3 linked regions of the Homo sapiens genome follow. The protein of the gene in region 1 interacts with the protein of each later gene in a pairwise test. Each region holds a gene or a part of one and is shown in the gene's direction. Other genes may lie near its edges.

Evidence for each region. Proteins that work in one complex are often made in the same cells at the same time.
Region 2: the proteins of DLST (region 1) and NLRP3 interact in binary tests that used the Homo sapiens proteins (3 or more experiments, as listed by UniProt).
Region 3: the proteins of DLST (region 1) and LGALS8 interact in binary tests that used the Homo sapiens proteins (3 or more experiments, as listed by UniProt).

Annotation. Positions count from the first base shown.
Region 1 is NC_000014.9:74,898,889-74,904,247, forward strand, and holds the end of DLST (dihydrolipoyllysine-residue succinyltransferase component of 2-oxoglutarate dehydrogenase complex, mitochondrial isoform 1 precursor), read left to right. Parts: intron 1-1,034; coding exon 1,035-1,108; intron 1,109-1,400; coding exon 1,401-1,484; intron 1,485-2,177; coding exon 2,178-2,345; intron 2,346-3,307; coding exon 3,308-3,442; 3' UTR 3,443-4,855; downstream 4,856-5,359. UniProt on the Homo sapiens protein: Dihydrolipoamide succinyltransferase (E2) component of the 2-oxoglutarate dehydrogenase complex. The 2-oxoglutarate dehydrogenase complex catalyzes the overall conversion of 2-oxoglutarate to succinyl-CoA and CO(2).
Region 2 is NC_000001.11:247,419,155-247,426,185, forward strand, and holds part of NLRP3 (NACHT, LRR and PYD domains-containing protein 3), read left to right. Parts: intron 1-4,075; coding exon 4,076-4,195; intron 4,196-4,692; coding exon 4,693-6,445; intron 6,446-7,031. UniProt on the Homo sapiens protein: Sensor component of the NLRP3 inflammasome, which mediates inflammasome activation in response to defects in membrane integrity, leading to secretion of inflammatory cytokines IL1B and IL18 and pyroptosis.
Region 3 is NC_000001.11:236,540,964-236,547,994, forward strand, and holds part of LGALS8 (galectin-8), read left to right. Parts: intron 1-690; coding exon 691-747; intron 748-1,797; coding exon 1,798-1,824; intron 1,825-1,951; coding exon of another isoform or gene 1,952-2,077; intron 2,078-2,596; coding exon 2,597-2,685; intron 2,686-3,786; coding exon 3,787-3,952; intron 3,953-4,198; coding exon of another isoform or gene 4,199-4,258; exon of another isoform or gene 4,259-6,998; intron 6,999-7,031.

The DNA of each region.
Region 1 (5,359 bases):
TTTGATCTTAGGTCGATGGGCCTCACTGGGAGCTTCGGCTTGGCCTCTCATGGACCTGGTGCTTATTTTCTTTCCTTTTTACTTACCTACGTCATTGTAGTGTTGACCTAACAAGCACTTTGTTTTCCTGTTGACACACTTCTCTGTTCCTTGGGAGATTGGAGAGGGGTCAGTGCTACTTTTGCCATCCTCAGCAGTGTCAGGGGCCCTAAAGGTCTAGAAGTAGAAGCCCTAGTCCCTCCTGTTGAGTGGTGCTCTAGGGAGGTAGAAGGCCATCTTTGTTTTGCCCAAATGTATACCTCTTCTTTTTCCCATTCTTCTCATGCCTCCCTGACTGGCTCTCATCTTTTTCAGTGGCCCCCTTCTGCTTGCCCACACATGTAGGCGGCTCTCAAAAGTTCTCGTGGCCTCTTTTTCACATTACATGCTTCCTCTGGATGTCTTATCTAACAATACAACATGGACTTTCTGCGGAAATGATTCCCAAGCCTTTATTTTCCCATTAGTTGCTAGGTGTACATTTTCAGATGCTGGTTTGCCATCTCTTGAGGTAGCATATTTCAAAGCCAGATCACCCCGCTTACTCTTGGATCTCCCCTCTTCCTCTTGTTGAGAGTTGGAAGCAGAGAATGGGTAGTATCTCTATATCCCTTTTCCTTTGCTAATTTGCCCTTTTTTGGAACATTTGTTAACCCTAGTCATTCTCTGCTAAAGGAGGGCTTGACTAGAGCTACTTAACGAGAGTTTAGTGCATACCTATCCTATGGAAGCCAGTGTGTTGAGCCCTTCTTAGGGCTGCCAAAGAAATGGATGCTCCTATGCCCAGGCTCAGTCAGGGACTTGGGAGATACTATACTTGGGATGGGAGTAAGTGGAATGCCAGCTGCCATGCATAATGCAGTGGTGTTCATGGTGGTTGGTCAGCCCACACTGTATCAAGCTCTGCAGATTTTTACTCTGTTAATGCACATATTACCTCATTAGTCTTGGCCTTCCTGGGGAGTTGTATGTAACATGTATTTTCTCTCTCATAGTGATTGACGACACAACCAAAGAGGTGGTGTATAGGGATTATATTGACATCAGTGTTGCAGTGGCCACCCCACGGGTATGTTGGGGCAGGAGGTGGGGAATGTTGGTCTTAGACCCTCACCTTATCTGTGTGAAGGAGATCACACAAGAGAAATCATTTCTTTAATTCTGTATTTTTAGAAGGGAGTTAGTAAAAGTAACCTTTTTTTTCTTTTAAACCATGCCGCATTCTTTTAACACTTTCTGTTAATCACACTGAGTAATGAAGGTATTCTAGGGAGGGCATACCATGGGTTGAATCAAGGGAGTTGTTAACTATAAAAGGTACTATTAATTTGCAACTGAAAACAGCTTTTCACCCCCTTCAGGGTCTGGTGGTTCCAGTCATCAGGAATGTGGAAGCTATGAATTTTGCAGATATTGAACGGACCATCACTGAACTGGGAGAGAAGGTAAAGTAGAAAGATGTATACAAGCTGCTAAGCAGGCGAGGGAAGAGAGCCTTCAGAAGGCTGGGCTCACTAGCAAGCAGTGCTCATGGAAAGTCAAGTGCATAGCCCCTGAGAAAAGCAGTTGCCCATGAGAGCTAAGTATTTTATATATCTGGTGGAGTTTACCATGCTCTGGTAACTGAAATCTCATCAGATGAGACCTGCTAGAAAAGATCATCTTTGAAGTCTTCAACTGTATGAAATTGTGCCTTTTCTCTGGTGGAGCACTGGTCATAGACACCTTAGCCGAACAACTGTCACACGGAAGCTAGCGCTTGTGCCATCGATCTCGATACAAGCTTTCTGGACTTCCTTTGCTTTTTTGTTTTTAGAGGCAGGGTCTCGCTGTGTTGCCCAGGCTGGAGTAGAGTGGTAGAGTCATAGCTTACTGCAGCCTTGCACTCCTGGGCTCAAGCGATTCTCCTGCCTCAGCCTCCCAAGTAGCTGGGACTACAGGTGTGCACCACCATGCCTGGCTAATTCTTAAGTTTTTTATACAGATGGGGGTCTCACTATGTTGCCCAGGTTGGCCTTGAACTCCTGGCCTCAAGCAGTCCTCCTGCCTCGGCCTCCCAAAGCGCTGGGATTATGGACTGACTTTAGGTGAAGGAAACTGGGTTGGCTTGATATTTCAATTATGAAATCTGTTTTTAGGCCCGAAAGAATGAACTTGCCATTGAAGATATGGATGGCGGTACCTTCACCATTAGCAATGGAGGCGTTTTTGGCTCGCTCTTTGGAACACCCATTATCAACCCCCCTCAGTCTGCCATCCTGGGGATGCATGGCATCTTTGACAGGCCAGTGGCTATAGGAGGCAAGGTAGGAACCGTCACTTCTAAGGTCCTAGTGGCTAGGTCTCGATGAAAGGGAAATCCAACTAAATGCTAATTGTAAAACATTAACTATAATTTCAGGCCTAAGTTCCATTTCTTAGTTTCTAATAGCTAAGGCACTGATTATCAAATTGTGGTCTGGATCAGCATCATCTGGGACCTTATTAGAAATGCATATTCTTAGACCCCATCCCAGACTTAAAGAAGAAGTGCAGATGATCCTGATGCATATTCAAGTTTGAGAACCACTGAGCTGAGGAGGCTTGTTTGCTTCTATGGAGTGGGGGATATAGTTGGAAACGTGGTCCCTTGCCCCTGGGAAACAGATGACAATTATGCATGTCAGTCTGTGAGCTGCCAAGTTGTATGATAAAGCTTGTAAATTTCCCGGGAGTTCAGAGAATTAAGTATTAAAAGGGGCTTGAGCTGGCCCTTAGAAGATACGTTGGTATCAAAAAAGCTTTCTGGGAACTCCTGTGTTTAGAATCCTTTTGGGTTACTGACTCCTGTGTGAAACCACAGTCTGTAGATCTTCCTGGAAAATGCCCATACACCCAGCTACACATACAATTCCAGAATTTGTAGACCCTGGCTTAATTTTTTTTTTTTTTTTTAAATTCTAACCCCAGAGAGAAGCAAGTACAGGCAGCCAGAACTGAAGGGAAAACTTTCCTTGTAGGCAGCAGATGCGTTAGAGGGCAGAGTATGTTTTTAAAAAATAAAAGGCAGTTGTGAGAAGACAGTTTTCTTGGCAAACTTTGTTTCTGAGTGGGGAAGCTTTGCACTGAGGGTAAGTCCTGGTCTTTGAAATACTGTAAATATGCAGAGGCAACATCAATAGGAAAGGCTCTGGAATTAGGAACTTTCTTATGGGCTGTGCTAAATCTCCTTCAGCGAGGCTGGCTGTGGCTTGCTGGAGACAAACCTATTTACCTTTCCTCTCTGTAGGTAGAGGTGCGGCCCATGATGTACGTGGCACTGACCTATGATCACCGGCTGATTGATGGCAGAGAGGCTGTGACTTTCCTCCGCAAAATCAAGGCAGCGGTAGAGGATCCCAGAGTCCTCCTCCTGGATCTTTAGGAGGAACCCACACACCCTACAAGTTGATCATGCAGGAACTGAAAACCAGTCTTCTCCCTGTCCCCTCATGGGTCCCGGGTTAGCCTGGTGACAGGCAGACACATGCTGTTGGCCTCAAGCAAGGAAGCAGAGCACTGTGTAACCAGCAGTCACAGGTCTTTTCTTGGCGTTCCTGCCAGGCTCTCCCTCTCTGCACCTGTCTCATAGCCTCGAATATCTTAATTCCTTAGGCTTAAGAGAGAGAGCCTTAATGGATGCTCATTCATATTCCTGCCTTTCTTCCATCAGCTCTCTGCAAAGATGATTTTGCTTTTCCCTAGTGCTGGTATACTATAGAGAAACCCCTGGGGACCATGTGATTAAGTTCCTATCTTTTGAAAGTTTGTTCTGCAGAGACTTCTAGGAGGATGCTGTGCCTCCCAAGCTCAGAGCAGCCTCTGTCCTGGCTGTGCACATTCTCCCTTGATTCCACTTGTGTGGAGGGATTGAACACAGGCAAAGAGGTGCTGCTTTGCTTCTTCAATGGCACCTTCATTCTCCGTTGTCATTGACTTCAAGATGCCTCTTCTACCTCTTCCAGGAAGCACAGGCCAGGGGATCTGGGTGTGTGAGTGGGAGGAGAGGGCAGAGGTCCCCTGAGGTCATGCATTGTAATCATCATAGAAGGAGAGCCCAGGCCTGCCCTCACGCTCTCCATCATAGGCTGACACCAAGAAGACTCGTCTTGGCACAATCTCACACAGCTGGGGCTGTAGCAACCCTTTCCAACCCCTTTGCTGGTTGCTGGGCCTCATTCTAGCACCTTGTTCTTAGAGCAGATTCTAGCACATCATGGCAGTGGGACCAAGCGTGGTCCCGAGGAAGGGCCAGAGCCTGGTAGAGACTAGGGAAGGGAGGTCTCCTCTAGACTGACTCACATTGCCTTGAGCTTTTCAGTTAAGTTGCTGTAAGCACCTGGGCTGAGGAGGCAGTTTTTGTTCCTTCCTGCGTTATAGCGGGGCCTTGTCTCTTCCTCTGCAGGACACAGATCTGGAGGACGTGGACTGGGGTAGGAAACCACCCTGAGGGTGTTAGTACCTAGTGGTGAAACGGATGAGGTCATTTCTAAGGTGTGTTGCCCGTGGATCTGGGCACAATCATTGGAATTCCTTGGAGCCACTGGGATTCATGGCTTTGTATCCAACTGCATCCAGGCCTGAGGCTGCTGACGTTTGACACCAGGGCCAGTAGAGAGTGCCCTTTTGTATCTTAAGCCAAGAAGTGAGGCCTGGGGGTGGGGGAGGGGGGAAGGGGTGGGAGCCAATACTGAGTGCCTGCAGCATCTACTACTCTGTCTTCACTATTCAGAACTTGTAACTAAAGTATTTAAAGAAACTGATTTTAAATGCAAATTAAAGGGCAGATATTCTCAAACAGGGTTCCTGTATCTGTTCCTTTTGGCTACTGAGGTGGTACAAGTCCCCAGCACTGTTGCACTGAAATTATTGAAAGCCACTCAAGGTCCTGTTGCTTATTTTGTGAAATCAGAAATCCCTTATGTGGAACTTAACACTCATAATTTGACAGAAGGTAGAACCCTGACTGCCAGCCGGGAAAGTGTTGCCAAAAAGAGTCAACCTCTGTAAAAATATTTGAAGAGATTTATTCTGAGCCAAGTGTGAGTGACTGATGGCCTGTGATACAACTCTTAGGAGATCCTGAGAACATGTGTCCAGGGTCGTCTGGCTACAACTTAGTTTTATACATTTAATACATTTTAGGGAGACATAAGATACCAGTCAGTACATGTAAGATGTACAGTGGTTTGGTCTGGAGAGGCAGGACAGCTCAAGACCTGGGGATGTTGTCATAGGCAGAATCAAAGATTTTCTGATTGGCAATTGGTTGAAAGAGTTATTATCTAAAGACCTGGAATCA
Region 2 (7,031 bases), on another chromosome or scaffold:
TATATATATATTTTTTTTTGAGACGGAGTTGCTCTTGTTGCCCAGGCTGGAGTGCAATGGTGAGATCTTGGCTCACTGCAACCTCCACCTCCCGGGTTCAAGCGATTTTCCTGCCTCAGCCTCCCAAGTAGCTGGGATTACAGGCATTGCACCTCCACGCCCGGCTAATTTTGTATTTTTAGTAGAGATGGGGTTTCTCCATGTTGGTCAGGTTGGTCTCAAACTCCCGACCTCAGGTGATCCACCCGCCTCGGCCTCGCAAAGTGCTGGAATTACAGGTGTGAGCCACCGCGCCCGGCCGTAATAATTTTTAAATGTACAGTTCAGTAGTGTTAGGTACACTCACATTGTGCAACCAGTCTCCAGAACTGTTTTCATCTTGCAAAACTGAAACTCCTCACCCATTGAATGATAACTCCTCATTGCCTCATTCTCCCAGCCCTGGTAACCACCATTCTATTTGCCATCTCTGTGAATCTTACTACTCTGGGTACCTCATATAAGTGGAAACATACAGCATTTTTTCCTTTATGAGTAGTTTATTTCACTCAGCATAATGTCCTCCGGGTTCAACTATGTTGTAGCATGTGTCGGAATTCCCTTCCTTTAAAAAAGACTGTATAAATACTCCATGGTACCATATACCAAATTTTGTTTAGTTATCTGTTGATGAACACCTGGATTACTTCTACCTTTTTGTTATTGTTAATGCTGTTATGAGTGTTGGTGCACAAATATCTCTTCAAGACCCTGCTTTGAATTCTCTGGGGTATATACTCAGAAGTGAAATTTCTGAATCATACGGTAATTCTGTTAAATATTTTGAAGAACTGCTCTACTGTTTTAGATACCATCTGCACCATTTCCCACCAACAGCACACAAGGGTTCCAATTTCTCCATATCCTAAGAACACGTTATTTTTATTTATTTTTTCTTTTTTATAGTAGCCATTCTAATGAGTGTGAGGTGGTATCTCACTGTAGTTTTGATTTCCGTTTCCCTAATGATAAGTGATGCTGAGCACATTTTCACTGCTTGTTGGCCATTTATAGAGCTTCTTCAGAGAAAGTTCTGTTCAAGTTCTTTTCTCATTTTCAGACCAGGTTTGGCTTTTGTTGTTGCCTTGTAGGAGTTCTTTATGTATTCTAGATATTAACCCCATATCAGATATATGATTTACAAATATTTTCTCCTATTCTGTGGGTTGTCTTTTCATTTGGTTAACTGTGTCCTTTGATGCACAGAAGTTAGTATGATTTTTTTTTTTTTAAATCATGGCCGGGCATGGTGGCTCATGCCTGTAATTCCAGCACTTTGTGAGGCTGAGGTGGGTGGATCACCTGAGGTCAGGAGTTCAACACCAGCCTGGCCAACATGGCAAAACCCCATCTCTACTAAAAATACAAAAAAAATTAGCCGGGTGTGGTGGTGGGCACCTGTAATCCCAGCTACTCAGGAGGCTGAGGTAGGAGAATTGCTTGAACATGGGGAGTGGAGGTTGCAGTGAGCTGAGATTGCACCACGGCACTCCAGCCTGGGCTAAAGAGCAAGACCCTGTTTCAAAAAAAAATTTTTTTTTCTTGTATTGTCTTGGTTTTTTCTCTTTTCCCCTCTCACGGTAGTGCTATGAGAAGGTGGAGGCAAACTGTTTGCTTTCTCTAACTCCTTTAAAAAGCTGATGCAGACTGTACCTACCCCCTGGGCACCTGCCATGATTAGTCCCTCTTTATCTGAATCTCAGCAGTGCCTAGACCTGCCTCCAATTCTCCATCCAGCTTCTCAGACCACATGTTTTGTCCAGTATCTGCTGTGTGGTCAGCAGGCTTGGGCCTCTGCTTCCTATGGCCCAGAGGGCAGCCTCTCTCCTTGAAGAACCGTGGAGTTTGGGGCAGAAGCCTTTCCTTTCACCACCACTTTGGGAATTGGAATGTAAAAGAAATTCTCTTAATCCCCATGTACACATTGGGGATAAGGTTCTTTCTTTTGTCTTGTGTTCTAGGCAAAGGTAGGGCTCAGAGAAGGGCAGGGTATTGCAGGATGATGATGTAGAGCTGGTGGTGATGGGAAGGAGGAGTACAAATGAGTCAGTGGATAGGGAGACACATGTTAAGGCAGGGCAGCAGTGTGGGTGTAATGACACTGGGGAAACAGACAGCAGTGTGCAGCCGGGGGAGGTCAGAAACCAGTTGCTGCAATGGCTCTCACCTGTAGTCCCAGCTACTCAGGAGGCTAAGGCAGGAGGATCGCTTGAGCCCAGGAGCTCAAAACCAGCCTGAGCAACATAGGGAGACCTCATCTCTAAGTAAATAAAGCAATTATCATTGTGTCAGTACTTATATACTCACATACCCAAATGAAAGTGTCATAATCACAACTGTAGAAGTACTTTGCTAAGCAGTTTTTATGGATTTTATGGCACATTCAAGAAACCCATGAAACAGCTTCTGGTATTATCCCTCCTGCAAGTGAATGAGGTGAGCCTGGAAGAGATCCTAACTGGCCCATGGTTTATTTCTAGCCATAACCAGAGCTGGGGTAAAAAGCAGGGCATGTCTCTGATCAAAGCCTGGCTCTTAACCACTACACCGTCTTTGCTTCCATATCTGGATTTTGAGGCAGAAAAGTTATAACTAGGGTTAGAAGTTTGTTTGTTTGTTTCCTGGGGTGGGGTTAGGTTTTAGGTAATAGACTTTGGCTAATTTACTGTCATGGCTCCTACCTGAGTCCCAGTTACTCAGGTGGCTGAAGTGGGTGCATCACTTGAGCTCAGGAGTTCCAGGCTGGAGTGAGCTATGACCATGCCACTGCCCTCCAGCTTTGGAAACAAAGCAAGACTCTGTCTCTTAAAAAAAAAGAATAAGATTTTGGTTTTGGCTTAGATTTTTTGGATTTTATTTTGTGATATGGTTACCAAGTAGACAGCTGTCAGAGGTCTTTTATGGGCTGGGCGCAGTGGCTTATGCCTGTAATCCCAGCACTTCAGGAGGCCAAGATGGGAGGATTGCTTGAGCCCAGGAGTTTGAGACCAGCCTGGGCAACATAGTGAGAACCTGTCTCTACAAAAAATGCAAACATTAGTTAGGTGTGGTGGCACGTGTCAATAGTCCCAGCTGTTCTGGAGGCTGAGGTGGGAGGATCACTTGAGCCCAGGAGGTTGAGGCTGCAGGGAGCCATGATTGTGTCATTGCACTCCAGCCTGGGCAATAGAGTGAGGCCCTGTCTCAAAAAAAAAAAAAAAATCATTTATGTTACTTGTAGATTCCTGCCCACCTGAAGTTATCTGTCTTATATATTTCCCCTAGTGACTAACTCTTGTTTTACCTAACCTGAATTTCTCCTATAGAATGCCTTCTTAAGATATGCTATCTAGTGACTGTTTGGATTTGTGATTCTCAACACAGATGCATGTTGGAATCACCTGGGAGCTTTTAGTATGTGATGGTTCCTGGGCCTCACCTCAGAGGGACTGAAAAAGAACCTCTGGGCGTGCAGTCCTGAAGTCCATATTTTTAAAGCTTCCTGGGTGATTCTAAAGTCAGCCAGGATTCCCAACCACTAGATTAGGCACGAAATAGACTGGTCGTTCTCACTCTTGAAGAACCAGACATCTAGACTTGACAATAGAAGACGTGTGTAAAATGGATTGCAGGGAACTGCGGTCAGGGAAGGGTGACCTTTCTTAGCCCACAGCCGTGTTGGGGATATAGGAGAGCTTGGAGATGCCCTCACAATCAGGCTGCCAGGGGCAGGCAAAAGCAAACGAGGGTAAAAGAAACTTAGCCTGCTTCGCATGTTTGCTGATTGATTTCCAGGCCTGAGGAAGAGATTCTGAGACTGGGGACAGTGGGAACACATGCTTGGCAGGTGGACAGCAGAAGTTGTTTTGAAACTAGGAGTGCAGAAATGCTCCCAACCAGACTTTTGACTGGATACCTGTCCTCTGCAACTCAGAGCCATGTTTTGATTTGGGGGATGTTTGGGGTCTCCTCTCTCATGCCAAATATTAGGCCAGGTTTCAATTGCATCCTCTGTGATAATAGTTCTGGGTTTTGACACCTTTTTTTTCCCTTTTAGGTTCAGATAATGCACGTGTTTCGAATCCCACTGTGATATGCCAGGAAGACAGCATTGAAGAGGAGTGGATGGGTTTACTGGAGTACCTTTCGAGAATCTCTATTTGTAAAATGAAGAAAGGTAAGCGACTGGGGTGGTGCTTCTAGTTGAGTTTTAAGACCTGGTTCAGGAGGCTCTGGGAAGCTGAGCAGCTGGGTAACTTGGCCATACTATAGGTTCCTGCTCTTTGGAATGCAAAGGCCTGTCTCAGGAAATCCATTGTCAGTTGAAGAAACAAATTCATGTTTGTGTGGCTCTTGCAGTCCCAGAGCCAGCGGCGGTGATTAAGCGTTTCAAGTTTGATAAGGCATAGGATGCAGATTACTTAAAGGAATAAGATTGATTCAAATGATCTTTGGGCTGGTAGCTACACATAGAGATGGGCCTTCTGCTCAGCTGTGTATCTTAAAAACTTGACACCAGAGATTCTCGGCACCTTTCCTACCCAGTGGGGAGGAGCTGCACCTTCCATTTCTCCATTCCGGTTACCACTCGCTTCCGATGACAGGCCCCAGCTGAGAGCGCATCTCAGGTGGATGTGTGTATACTTTCCCCCTAACTTCCTGTCTTTGCCGTAGATTACCGTAAGAAGTACAGAAAGTACGTGAGAAGCAGATTCCAGTGCATTGAAGACAGGAATGCCCGTCTGGGTGAGAGTGTGAGCCTCAACAAACGCTACACACGACTGCGTCTCATCAAGGAGCACCGGAGCCAGCAGGAGAGGGAGCAGGAGCTTCTGGCCATCGGCAAGACCAAGACGTGTGAGAGCCCCGTGAGTCCCATTAAGATGGAGTTGCTGTTTGACCCCGATGATGAGCATTCTGAGCCTGTGCACACCGTGGTGTTCCAGGGGGCGGCAGGGATTGGGAAAACAATCCTGGCCAGGAAGATGATGTTGGACTGGGCGTCGGGGACACTCTACCAAGACAGGTTTGACTATCTGTTCTATATCCACTGTCGAGAGGTGAGCCTTGTGACACAGAGGAGCCTGGGGGACCTGATCATGAGCTGCTGCCCCGACCCAAACCCACCCATCCACAAGATCGTGAGAAAACCCTCCAGAATCCTCTTCCTCATGGACGGCTTCGATGAGCTGCAAGGTGCCTTTGACGAGCACATAGGACCGCTCTGCACTGACTGGCAGAAGGCCGAGCGGGGAGACATTCTCCTGAGCAGCCTCATCAGAAAGAAGCTGCTTCCCGAGGCCTCTCTGCTCATCACCACGAGACCTGTGGCCCTGGAGAAACTGCAGCACTTGCTGGACCATCCTCGGCATGTGGAGATCCTGGGTTTCTCCGAGGCCAAAAGGAAAGAGTACTTCTTCAAGTACTTCTCTGATGAGGCCCAAGCCAGGGCAGCCTTCAGTCTGATTCAGGAGAACGAGGTCCTCTTCACCATGTGCTTCATCCCCCTGGTCTGCTGGATCGTGTGCACTGGACTGAAACAGCAGATGGAGAGTGGCAAGAGCCTTGCCCAGACATCCAAGACCACCACCGCGGTGTACGTCTTCTTCCTTTCCAGTTTGCTGCAGCCCCGGGGAGGGAGCCAGGAGCACGGCCTCTGCGCCCACCTCTGGGGGCTCTGCTCTTTGGCTGCAGATGGAATCTGGAACCAGAAAATCCTGTTTGAGGAGTCCGACCTCAGGAATCATGGACTGCAGAAGGCGGATGTGTCTGCTTTCCTGAGGATGAACCTGTTCCAAAAGGAAGTGGACTGCGAGAAGTTCTACAGCTTCATCCACATGACTTTCCAGGAGTTCTTTGCCGCCATGTACTACCTGCTGGAAGAGGAAAAGGAAGGAAGGACGAACGTTCCAGGGAGTCGTTTGAAGCTTCCCAGCCGAGACGTGACAGTCCTTCTGGAAAACTATGGCAAATTCGAAAAGGGGTATTTGATTTTTGTTGTACGTTTCCTCTTTGGCCTGGTAAACCAGGAGAGGACCTCCTACTTGGAGAAGAAATTAAGTTGCAAGATCTCTCAGCAAATCAGGCTGGAGCTGCTGAAATGGATTGAAGTGAAAGCCAAAGCTAAAAAGCTGCAGATCCAGCCCAGCCAGCTGGAATTGTTCTACTGTTTGTACGAGATGCAGGAGGAGGACTTCGTGCAAAGGGCCATGGACTATTTCCCCAAGATTGAGATCAATCTCTCCACCAGAATGGACCACATGGTTTCTTCCTTTTGCATTGAGAACTGTCATCGGGTGGAGTCACTGTCCCTGGGGTTTCTCCATAACATGCCCAAGGAGGAAGAGGAGGAGGAAAAGGAAGGCCGACACCTTGATATGGTGCAGTGTGTCCTCCCAAGCTCCTCTCATGCTGCCTGTTCTCATGGGTAAGGAAACTCGGCTTCCAGGTGCTTCCTCCTGCTTCCTCGCCAGCTTCTTCTTGGCGCTTGCCTCCTCTCATCTCTTTTCAACTATCTTCCAAATACTGTTGCCACAGCTACATCATAATGCCACCACTGTCTGTTTGAGACTCCTTCATGAGCAAAGATTGATGTATGGTAGGTGGATAAATGGGATGAGGAAAAAAAAAATAAAACAAGGAACAAATGTTTGGGGAATGCCAGTTTAGCACAAGGTATTAAGTAGGATGTAGGATTGCCTACAAATATTTGTCAACTGAAATTTCTTGTAAGCTACTTGGAGCACTAGTGCCTAAGAGTCAGTCAATGTCTGTGGGGCAGAACAATGCCAGAGAGTCTGTGTCCCAGGAGCGAGGGGACAGAGGGCCTCAGAGCTGGAGGCTGGGGGGATGTTTCTTAGAAATGTGCAATCTAAGCCTCCTTTAAGGAATGGTGGGACCTGGGCGCATAGAGAAGAAATTAAAGGAATTCTGCACTGAAGACTGGTATGAGCCAAATCATGAATGCAGTCTGAGAAAAAGTGTGTGCAGGTGACAGTGGAGAGAGACACAGT
Region 3 (7,031 bases), on another chromosome or scaffold:
TTTCTGTAAGACAGGTTCCTAGGCTGGGAGTGCCTGAGTCAAAGAGCACAGTCATGTGTTGCATAAGGACAGTTCAGTCAAAGATGAACCACATATACAACCGTGGTCCCATAAGATTGTCATATACTGTATTTTTACCATACCTTTTCTATGTTTAGGTAAGTTTATATGCACAAATACTTACCATCCTGCTCTGGTTGCCTACAGTATTTGGTACAGTGCCTGCTGTACAGATTCACTGGCCAGGAGCTATAGGCCACACCCTACAGCCTAGGTGTGTAGTTGGCAGTACCATCTAAGGTTGTTAAGTAATATTCTGTGATGTTTGCACGATGACAAAAGTCATGTAAGGACACATTTCTCAGAACATACCCCCTTCGTTAAGCAACACATGACTGTCTTTGCATTGAAAATTTTGATAGATACTAACTCGCCCTTCACAAGGGTAAAAACAGTTTGCACTCTCAACAGCCATGCTCCCACCTTCTTGCTGACATTACATCTTATTCTCTGTAATGTTTGCCAATCTGATGGGGGGCGGAAAGGACCACAGTGTCAAGTGTATTTTTGGATCATAGTTTTCAAGCATATTTTTAGTACCATTTATAATTTTTTTATATGTCAATATAAAATATTTAGAAAATATTTTCTACTGGATGTTACAAATTAATCTTTATTATCTTTTCTCAGGACTTACAAAGTACCCAAGCATCTAGTCTGGAACTGACAGAGATAAGTAGAGAAAATGTAAATATTAAATCTTTTAATGAGCCACTGGTTTAAAAATGTTGTTTTAGCTGCCATGTTAATGAAATGGCAAGAAGGCTGGGTTTTTGAAAATTATGCTTTTAGAACGCAAGTAATCACTTGAAAATTGAGATACATACTTGTGGTGCCAGGCACGCAGTAAGTTTTTGCTGATGATTCACCTGTCAGTTTCTGTAACTGCCACTCACTGTTCTTATGTAAAAAGCACTCTCTCACTCTTAACTGCTGAATAGTACTGTTCTGGGGTATTTCCAAATATTGAACATCAGCCAGTGCACTGGCAAATGAACTTCCATGTGTATCTTCAACCCCTGGGAGAATAACTGCAATTTAAAAATGCGCTGTTATTAATGGAGAAAGTGAGGTCTTACCGACTGGCACGTTCACACCTCACAGACAGAACAGAATCTTAGCATTCTGGGGGCACCCTGGAAAGGACAACTAAGACACGTTTGAAGTTCATGTAGTGCTGGGTGAAGGTGGTGGCTCAGGCCTGTAGTCCCAGCGCTTTGGCTGAGGTGGGGGGATTGCTTGAGCCTAGGAGTTTGAGATCAGCCTGGGCCACATAGGGAGAACCCCATCTCTACAAAAAATTAAAAAATTATCTGGGCATGGTGGCGCATGGCTGTGATCCCAGCTTTGGGTGGCTGAAGTAGGCGGATGACTTGAGCCCAGGAGGTTGAGGCTGCAGTGAGCCATGATTGAGCCACTGCATCCCAGTGTGGATGACAGAGTAAGACCCTGTCTCTTAAAAAAATTTCATATAGTTCTATGAAAAATTATTAATTTATGGTGGAGGATAAAGGACTCAGATGAACAGGGATATCAGACTCTCTTCTCAACCCGTGTAGCCCTTCACAACACCATACCATTCCGTCATAAAGCACCAGCTGCCTGGAGGTCACACCAGAGTGGAGCAGGAACATCCCAGGCTCCGGCCAGGCTCAGCTCAGCACAACCAAGACTTCAGATTATAAACTATAATTCTTCCCCTTCTAACATTGTTGTGTTTTGTTTCTTTTCCAATAGGTTCCAAAGTCTGGCACGCCCCAGCTTGTGAGTATTTTTGCCTGGGTTATTTCATGTGGAATATTTTATAAAGTTGCATAGAAAATGAACAGTTTAAACCGTGGAGGGCAGCTTCATTCATTCCATTCCTTACTGTAGAACTGTTTCCCTACAGCCTAGTAATAGAGGAGGAGACATTTCTAAAATCGCACCCAGAACTGTCTACACCAAGAGCAAAGATTCGACTGTCAATCACACTTTGACTTGCACCAAAATACCACCTATGAACTATGTGTCAAAGGTTTGAAGAGCACCAAATTTTCTTAACTCTATATAAAAATTAAGTTGTAATGAGCTGTTACGAGTAACCTGTATCCACAATAGAGGCCCAAAGCAGCCCCCTCTGCATTTGTGTGCCGTCCCTGGACGGATTCGAGAGTCAACCAGGCCTGCCTCTGAGCCATTCCTGTGTATTTCCTCAGCACCTCCCTGCTTGGCTGCTTCCCCTTCAGGCAGAACACAGTACTGCCTCAGACCCCAGGCACAGGGGGCCTTCCTGGCGTGTTTCACTCATACAGAGGGCATCGGGTCCCACCCTGTCACTCATTTCATCGTCTAAAATGTAATCATGTGTGTTTGCTTCGAGCCAGGGACAGTGCTGCTGCAGGGGACCCAGCTGGGACCAAGGCAGACTGTCTCTCCCCTCCTGGGATTTACAGGGTCATGGCTCTGAAACATTCCGTAGTGTTCTTTGGACACGAGTTTTCCCTGGAGATCGCTTTCTGCAGGCCTCTTGGTCCTGACTGTGGCTTCTTTTCAGAGGCTGCCATTCGCTGCAAGGTTGAACACCCCCATGGGCCCTGGACGAACTGTCGTCGTTAAAGGAGAAGTGAATGCAAATGCCAAAAGGTCAGTATCCTTCGGTACCAGTCACAGTGCAGATACTTCCGTGCCTGTTACCGCCTTCCACCCGTGAACGGTCCTGTGAGCTGGAAGAAGGGCTAGCGTCAGAATCTTCATTTCCAAAGTGAGATGATTCAAGCAGGAGGTGGTTAGATTGTGAACAGCCAGTGGGCAGCAGAGCCGACTAAGGCCGTGTTCTGACCTCGGCTTTTTCTGGCCAGACAAGAGAGTAGCATTTTTGTCCACGAGGCCTATCCTTGCCTTGTAGAACTCCAGAGCAGCCCCGTAAGATCAGGCAACATCTTTTCTTTTTTTTTTTTGAGATGGAGCCTCACTGTGTCACCCAGGCTGGAGTGCAGTGTCACAATCCCAGCACACCACAACCTCCGCTTCCTGGGTGTTCAAGCCATTCTCCTACCTCAGCCTCTGGAGTAGCTGGGATTACAGGCGCACCACCACGCCCAGCTACTTTTTGAATTTTTGTATTTTTAGTAGAGACAGGGGTTCACCATGTTGGCCAGGCTGGTCTGGAACTCCTGACCTCAAGTGATCCGCCCACTTCGCCCTCCCAGTGCTGGGATTACAGGTGTGAGTCACCACGCCCAGCCCAGGCAACATTTTTTAGGGCCCCTCTTGTCATGTGATTTAGAAAATTTCTGCTTTAACAACTTTTTCCACAGACGTCCAGCCTTCTGAAAGCTTGAAATTAGAGCTATTTCCTAGAAAGTGGCATACTTTCAAGAAGGAAGGAACACGGGTAGATGATGAAAAGAGAATACCTGCTTGAGAGGATCCCAGGCTCCTGCAGCCTGAAGTAGTCATTCAGTTTAGCGTTAAACCTTCCATTTCTGTCCAACCACATCTCAGCCTCAACGCTGATTTTAAAGGGTTTTTTTTTTCGTATTTTTATTTTGCAAGTAACGAATTAGTGGAATGCTGACTGGGTTTAAAATTTCAACTTCACCTGCATTCCCATGTCCATGTGGATACGTGTGTTTCATAGAGTTAGAATCATAGTTCAAGTCTGGTCACTAACATTGCTGAAATTGCCACTACTCTGTCCTACTTGGTTAATTAAGGTTTTTTTTTTTCTTTCTTTCTCAAAAGCTTTAATGTTGACCTACTAGCAGGAAAATCAAAGGATATTGCTCTACACTTGAACCCACGCCTGAATATTAAAGCATTTGTAAGAAATTCTTTTCTTCAGGAGTCCTGGGGAGAAGAAGAGAGAAATATTACCTCTTTCCCATTTAGTCCTGGGATGTACTTTGAGGTGAGGTTACAGTTTTTGAAAATGGGACAGCAATAAGAATCCTGGGAGCAGGGGTGGGATAAGTGGTCCATTTAAATCAAGTCCTAACTCAGTATGTGGAAGTTGTGTATGTTTTTTGTTTACTTGGAGATTGTAATTTGCCCCTTTTTATAACGTGGGCAATCAGTATAAATGGCAAAGCCAGTAGAGTGTCAAATTATGCACATTGGAATTGACATTTGTCATCATATTAAAATTCCTGTGTAGCCCCATATTGATAGGAATTTAACCAGGAAGCTTGTCTCAGGACTGGAGTCACACATTTAATCATATAAGCAGACTTGAGGACGTGGAGACCCTAAAACTGCTTGCTTGCACTGGCCATCATCTCCCATCAGGGTAGACGGTTTCAGGTGGCAGTCCTTTCTCCTAAGGAGTTAGTCTTGTTTGTATGTATTCAAGGAAAAATACATCAGTCCCTTGGAACTAAAAGGCATGCAGTCCTGAGTCCCCAGATAGGTGAATATTGTAACACATACCTTTCCCGAAATATGTTTCTGGGATGCTGAGCAGAGAATAGTCTCCTTGTGATGCGGATGCCGGGTGTTTGGCCAGCCTCAATCACCAGCTCAGGTGCCACTGCCTCACACAGTCACTTAGGGTCATTGGTTTAGGTTATCATTCTACAGCATTTTAAACTGACACATTGTCTGGACCATGTGGGTTCTTGAGGACTCATCAAAACTCGTTACTAAAAGCATGAATATCAGGCGGAATAGATAGCAATGTGACATTCATATTTATCCCTAAGTTCCAGTCTAATGCAGTGCCCTGGTATGTGGAGTGTAGACAGATGTGGGCTAATCATGGAAGGTTCCCTGAAGTTGTGGATATTGGTTTGGAATTCAGAAAGCTGGGAAGGATGTGGAAGGCTGAAGGTTGGCTTTTCTAGATTTAGGGCATGATTTGAACAAGTCCTTAGAGGTGGGAAGGGCAGCACAGGGTTGTTAGCTTGGCAAGAGTCAAGGCGCAAAGGGTGACTTGGGGTTCACTGGAGGGAAACAGAGGTGAGTGCTCTAGAAGGAAGTTGAGCCTTGTGGTGGGTGACAGGAAACCAATGATGTAACTTGTTTTTGACCTATCTGGGCCCCAAGTTTGGATCTGCTATATTAATATAAAAAAGGATAATAATGATACATTCAAATAATGCTGAAAAATACTAAGATGAAAATACCTCCAACTTCATAATTCAAACCATACCATTAGGATTAGGTGAACCACATTCCAGGCATTTTTTTGCAGAGACAGTGAAAGGGATGGCTGGCTGAAGGAATGAATAGATGAATGTTATATGCTTTTGAACAATCGTCTTTTCCATTTAATTTTCTAATTCAGGAGCAGTAATTATCCTTGTGTTGATCACTGCTGACGATTTTCTATACTGATAGGTCCTTTCCGGGGGCTTCCATCTCTTGCCTTTTAAATATGCTTGCATTGAGATTATCTCAGGTCTTTCCATTATGCCATTACTTTCATTTTAAATCTTCTTGCTCTTTCAAATACACTTTAGTTGTATCTACAGTTTTTTAAAAACAATCTCATTCAGTGTTGTAATTTCATCTGTGGGCTCTTCCTCTGGATGAAATCCGTGTTCCAGCTGTTCGGCAGCATCAGATGGTTGTGAGGGATTCTGTTGTTCTGTTTTCTTCTAGGCAAAGGATGTGCCTTCTTTTCATTTGCAGTAGTCTGCTCACCCGGAAGCATGTCATTTCTTTGCCACTTGCTTGTAATTCACTGGCTTTGCACTTGCTCTGATACAGTACAGGTAACTAATTGACTCCCTCTGCTGCCAACTTGGTTTTCCTTCTGAGCTATAGCATCAGGCTGTGTGTTTTGTGTTTTCTTGAGATTTTGTTAAATATATCTGGGGTCCCTTCTACCTGGTTGGAACTGGGATTCCCACCATTCTTGTGGGGATAGAATCTCAGGTTACACCTATTTCCCCAATCCTCTGTAGCCACAGAAGCTTCATCTTGGCCAGCTGTTATCAGAGTGCAGGACTTGGGCTGAAATTTCCTCCCCTTCCTGATTTTCCTTGACAGTCCTTTCCACTGCTCCTATCAAAAGAATGGAAACCCTCAACTTGCTGCTTTGCAGATTCAGGTTTTGTGCTTCATTCTGGCCTCTCGGGGTGGGGCCGGGTTAGCAGCAAGGCTGAGCTGCCCCTCTTTCTTCTGAAGCCTTCATGGGGGCGAGGAGCACAGGGAGAGCTCAGTGCAGGGCCTCCCAGTGGCCTTCTCAGAGTGGGTGGAAACCCAGCCTGGCACTGGCAGCGTGGCACCAGAAGTATGAAGTGTAGGTGTAAAGGTGATGTAAAAGGCTAGTAGGTTTTTTGGTTTTTCATTGTTTGAGTTTTGGGCATAGATGACTGTGAAGGGCGAACACTGCCGATGGATCTGAATTTGTAGTATGTGCACCACTTCCAACTTACGGGATACCCAGCTTTGACGGCTTTGGACAAACACACTGAGGCCAAGATGTGCTGAGCTTATCAGGATCAGGATCACCAAGCAGCTGTAAAAACCCTAGCAAGTGCCTTAAGCTGCTGAAATTTCATATTAATTGTCTGGTTTGTTCATGGTCCTAGAGTTTGAGGCAGAAAAGTCAGTCAGGATCCAAGTCCCTTGGTTCCAGGCTACAGCTGGAAACAGCATCTCGGTGAACTAAAGCAACCATATTAGGAGTGAGTTTTCCTGCTTTAGGAGAGTCCCCAGCATCGGCGAGGAGGGGCAGCACTCTGGCTTTCCAGGAGCAAGGGGCAGGATGCGGCCGAGGGAGAGGGGCTGTGTTGAGGAAAGGAGGGCCGCAGGCCCTGGGGATGGTGTGAGGCTCCAAACATGTCCGAGTCACTTCCCTGGGTGGGATGAGGCAGACAGTGCCACCACCAGGGACACTTTAGTTAGATTAGGGTCTTGGAAGTCAGAAGGAAGTCAGCAGCAGCAGGCTGGAACTTTTCTATGTATAATCAAATGGTTTACTCTGACACCGTTAGCATGTAACAAACACAAAATTTTAAACTAAGGGGAACCACTAATGGCAT